Regions from separate parts of the Homo sapiens genome. Here region 2 is linked to region 1. The links come from fine-mapping of genetic effects on gene expression. A gene starts in region 1. The other region holds a variant in brackets. All regions are shown on one strand. Distances are from middle to middle. Region 1 holds the start of PDK2 (pyruvate dehydrogenase kinase 2). Region 2 overlaps ITGA3 (integrin subunit alpha 3).

Region 1 (2,500 bases):
GGGCGATCCTGACCTAGCAGCCCTGGGGCAGCCAAGGGAGGTATAGGCGGCTTGACTCCACATCACGGTGCCTGGGGCCCCTGCCCAGCTGGGGAGAGGCTGCCAGGCCGGAACAGATTTGATCTTCAAGTGTCCTTGCCCACTGGGGCAGCTAGGGTCCAGCTCCTTCTGTGGGTGGATGTCTACCAGTCAGGGCACTGTCTCCCAATGGCATCTTCTGAAAGAGCCCCCTTCCCCAACTGCCCCTGGCTTAATCTCACCCTCTGCCCAGGGGTGTCTGACCCTTCATGCCCAGTCCAGGTCTCTCTACAGATGGCTGCACCTCTAAACCCTGCCTCCTCACTCCCACCAGCAGACCCCCGGTTTCCTCTGGTGGGAGGAGGGGCCCCTACTCCTCCAGTCATGAGGACAACTCCCATTAACCCTTTCGCGTCTGGATACCACCCTACTCCCTTCCTGCAGTAACATCACAGCTTCACTGCCCCTTACTCTTCAAGACCCTTCATGAGGCCCACGAAGAAACCTCGGGACCGTCCTTGTAAATGCCCCCCATTCCCATCAGCAGCCCCGTCGAGAGGCCCCGGCCGGTTCCTGCTTCCCCATTAACTCTTTCCTGCCTGTACCTTTCCAAACAACCCTTCTCTGTCACTCGGGGCCTTTCTTCTCCTCCGTCCCCCTAGCCCCCGGCTGCCCCTCCCAGCGCCCCGCCGGCCTCCGCTGCCAGCCGCCTCCCGCCCACTCCGTACCGAAGTCCAGAAACTGCTTCATGGACAGCGGGGACGGGGAGAACTTGCTGAAGTGCTCTATGTACTTGGGCGCCCCTGCCAGGGACGCATTCTTCAGCAGCGCCCACACCCAGCGCATGGCTGCGGCGGCCGCGACTTTGGTTGTGGTCCCCGCGCGGGCAGCGCTCGCGCACCTTTCGGCCCAGCGACGCGGTTCGGCCGCCTCCTCCCTACCCTTGCCCTGGCGGGCATTCCAACGCCCAGCCAATCGGCTCGTCATGGCGCCTCGACGTCGCCAATGGCCACTCACAAACAACTCCGGGCGAACCAATAGCCTTCCGCCCCGGCACGTGGCTTCCCCCGGGCCCGCCCCCTTAACCCACGCTTTGCCGGGGCGGCCTGTTGTTTTGGGGAGGCCGCGCCGAGTTCCCACCTCCCCTGTGTTCACTCCTCCCTTTCCTCCGCGGGGCGAAGCCCGGGTTAACCCCTTCCTTCCCAGAGCCCCGCCAGCCCTTTCGCTTCCTCTTCCACGCCTGCCTTTCCCTTGCTACCCCCTCGCATCTCCTTCACCTGCAGGCTCCTTTTAACCCTTCCTTTCCAGAGTTGTCTAGGTAGCTTTCAACCAATCCCTTTTCTCCAACTCAAAGGTACCTGTTTCACCTGTCATGATCGTTACCTATCCTCCCTTAACGGGTCTTGGGGATTCCCAGTCCGGATGACAGTGACCCAGACTGCGAATATTTGCAAAATTCGGAACCAGGGTGCAAGCCTATACGAATCCGTCCTGTATATATGCAGCCCACCCGCTTCCACAAAGATCCAAGCGGCTCAGGAAAAGGCGGAGTTTGCTTTTCCAACTGAAAAACATCCAGAGTAAAAACCATCACTACTAGTGGCGGTGGAGGCAGCAGCTATCGTCCATGCCAGTTAACACTTTCATTTTATTATACAGCTCATCTGACCGAACATAAAGCCTTGGACATCTAGCGCGACCACCTGAGAAAGCCACCTCCTTCGCACCGGGCTTCCTTAGAGCAAGATCCCAGGAGGTGAAGTGTCTCTGGGAGGCCCGGAGCCCGTCCTTCATCAGCGGCCCAGCTTCTCTTGGAGAAAATGTGACGCGCCCTCTTGTGGCCGAATGTGGTATCTCCCATCGTGGGTTTAGGGCCCGACCCGCCACTTTGATGCTTTCTTTGCTCGGTGACATTAGCCTAATACGTGTTAGGCTTTATGCTGGGAACAGGGAACACAGACAGGATCAAGAAATGGCCTTTTTCCTCGATGATTTCATTTCTAAGTTTCAGAGATAGCTACATAAGTAAATAATTAGCTATAACTGAATGTGATTGTAATACAGACCTCACAGAGCAAAGCTTCACATATGGAAGGGCCTCTTAGCTGGATGAATAATAAGCTATATGCCAGGCACTGTTTACAGGCATTATCTCATTTAATTCTCTATTTTATTATTCTTAGCCTCATTTCATAGATAAGAAAACCGAGACTCAGGGATCATTCTCAACTGCAAATCTGACCTTATTACTTCCTTGCTCACAGCCTTTCAATGGGCTATTTTTTTTTTTTTTTTTTTTTTTTTTGAGATTGAGTCTCCCTCTGTCGTCCAAGCTGGAGTGCAGTGGCACAACCTTGGCTCACTGCAAACTTCTCCTCCCAGGTTCAAGCGATTCTCCTGTCTCAGCTTTCCAAGTAGCTGGGATAACAGGCATGTACTACCATGCCTGGCTAATTTTTGTAATTTTAGTAGAGACAGGGTT
Region 2 (2,500 bases), 37 kb after region 1:
AATGCCTGGATTCCCAGGAGGGAATGTCAGTGCAGGTGCTGGAGCAGAGAGGGTGTCAGTAACCACCTCCCAGAGAACAGTCCCTGTCCCTCCAAGGAACCCCTCATGCATCTTGCCAAGAAGCCCAGAGCACTTTGGTCCTCTGCCTGCTCCTTACCCCTCATTTCCACAGACTAGGAGACTGGGCCCTGGGTTGGGGCTAGCCCCCTATGTTGTGGACCAGGAACCCCAGTCCAGAGATGAAGGTGATGGGGCAGCAAAGAGGGTCCCACCCCTGGGTTTCTAACCATTTCTGAGGCCTTATGAATGGAGAACAAGAAAGCTGTGCTCTCCCCTCCTCCCACCCCCAGGGCAGTGGACAAATACTACGATTTTGGGTACACTTTCAGGGAGTCCCTGCATCTCTTGAAAACCTTCTACGAACCCCAGTTTAAGAGCCTGTCCAAGACCACGAACCATCCCACTTTTCCAAAGAGACTTTCAGGCTAACAGAATATGAGGCTGCAGCTCGTCTTACTAGTTAGTTCCTCTGAGTTGTGCACTCAGGCAGCTGTTTGCATCTGGCTACACAGCTGGCTGCAGCTAAGCCCAGCTGGCTCTCCCAAATGGCCGAGGGGTCGAATTTAGTGAGATGAAGAGAAGGGCCAAGACACAGAACCACCCTTAGGAAAGACTGAGGATACTCAAGGGAGAGAACTGCCCCTCAGAGGTTCATTAGCTTTAGAACCTTCTGGGCTCTTGGCAGGCTGAATGCCAGCTCCAGCTTCCCAGACAGAAAAGTAGAACCCCTTTGCTCAGCCACCCTGGGCGGGGCCCATGGGTAATGAGGATGCATCCAGGTTCTGGCCTCAGCGCAAGAGCCTTCAGGTGCTCCTTGGAGAAAGGCACATGTGCAGAGGATTTTACGCACTTTATCTCGTTACAGCCCCACTAACATCCCAGCAGAAGGCATGCTGTTCCCCTCCCTCCAACATGTGCGGAAATTCAGGTTCAGGTATTGGTAACAGATCTGAGACAGGACACTGGCCATGGGACCTCCAAGCCTCTTCTCCCTCTACCATATCAAGTTGCTTCTCACAGGCCAGCAGCAGTGGGAAAGAGCACTAGATCCAGGTCCAACCCGTTTTGGGGGAAACCTGGCCCAGGGAGGGGAAATATCTTGCTCAAGGTCACCAGGCAAAAGGGTTGCGGAATCATTATTGACTCTTTCTTTCCAGTCTGATCTCTTTACCTATGTTATCTTATATCATGCAGATTTGGCATTGAAAGTCTGAAAATCTTTTTCTCAGTTAGGGCAGAAAGAGCTGATGTAGAAACTTGTGCT[C/A]ATGGTGGCTCAGGATCTCCAAAAGATAGAGGGTTGGCTAAGGCCAGGTGGCAGCTGCTGGGGCCAGGCTGGGAAGGGTGTGGTAGCCCTAGCCTCTGCAAGAGCAAGATGGAGTTGAGGTTAAGTCCAGGTAGGTAGGCTGGGTCAGGAGGGCAGAACCAAGGCGGGGGCAGAGTTTGGACTTTGGACATTCTAAACTTCCTCAAGCTCTGCAGGCCCCAGCCAGAGCAGGGAGATTTTCCAGTGTACCCTGGATGTGACCACGTCTTCTTGTTCAGTGGGGTCAGAGGCCAGGTGGGGGCAGAGGCTAGGTGGGGGCAGATGCCTGGCAGATCGCCCAGCCCAAAGTGGTGGATGGTACCTGCTTAACCTGTCCTAAACACCGTCCCTCTTTGGACAGCTTCACCTCCCCCAACCGCCAACCTCCGCGCGCTCTGAGGCCACGGCAGAGAGACCTCTGAAGCCTGGACATGCTCCTGGGCATGAGGGCGTCTGGTGGAGTGAGGGGGACCCAGGAGGCTGGGTGCAACCTCCTCCTCCTTCCTCCACTGTGCATAGCTCTTCCCCTCCTCCTTGCAGCTGTTGGGGAAGGAGAACAGAAGAAAGAGAAAAACACTGTTTCCCTCTTCAAACCAAAACAAACACACTCAGGGTTGAAGATCCAACACGAATCTGTGGAATGCAGGGAAGATGTCTGCGGGGAGAGTGCCACTGCTTGCGGGTGGGCAGGAGGAGACCCAGCCAGAGTTGGGACAAGTCCTCCTCTCTCTTTCACCGCCCCTATCCTCAAGGCGTCAGAGGGAGCGTATGGACAGCTCCAAACGCCCAGACTCACCCATCGCCTCACCCTCCATCCGCCAAGCCAGCGGTTGAGAAGGCCATCCAGTCTGGCTCTGCAGAGGGTGTGGCTGGCGTGGCCGCAGACTACCAGCGAGGTGCTTAAATGTATATGCTCATTTTTCCCCCAAGCGTACGGGAAGGGGGGAGTCCGCTGGGTGTTTATCTTGCAGTTTACCCCAGCTCCCAGCCCTGGAGAGAACAGGCTAGTGCTGGGTACTCGGTTCACAGAATGGGAGAGGACTCAGCCACCGGGACCCCACTTCCGCTCTCATGAGAGATCTAAAGGGCGGAGGGGTGGCGTCCAGACAGGTTCTGGCCCCGTCAGCACTTGCCAAT

What was found. PIP is the estimated chance that this variant, and not a neighbour inherited with it, causes the effect.
Region 2: its variant is fine-mapped to the expression of PDK2 in whole blood (INTERVAL, PIP above 0.99).

Annotation. Positions count from the first base shown.
Region 1 is chr17:50,093,800-50,096,299 of GRCh38, reverse strand. PDK2 (pyruvate dehydrogenase kinase 2) reads right to left here and starts at 949. Exons shown (of 11, transcript NM_002611.5): 1 at 747-949. The coding sequence starts at 864. It overlaps LOC124904024 (a long non-coding RNA gene), which reads right to left. Exons shown (of 2, transcript XR_007065837.1): 2 at 1,647-1,958. RefSeq lists enhancers at 1-33, 34-549, 1,581-1,790 and a silencer at 1,081-1,200.
Region 2 is chr17:50,056,826-50,059,325 of GRCh38, reverse strand. All of the region lies in intron 1 of ITGA3 (integrin subunit alpha 3), which reads right to left. Among named protein-coding and RNA genes, the nearest start is that of ITGA3, 2.0 kb to the right of the region's middle. The variant C/A (reference allele first, on the strand shown) is at 1,325.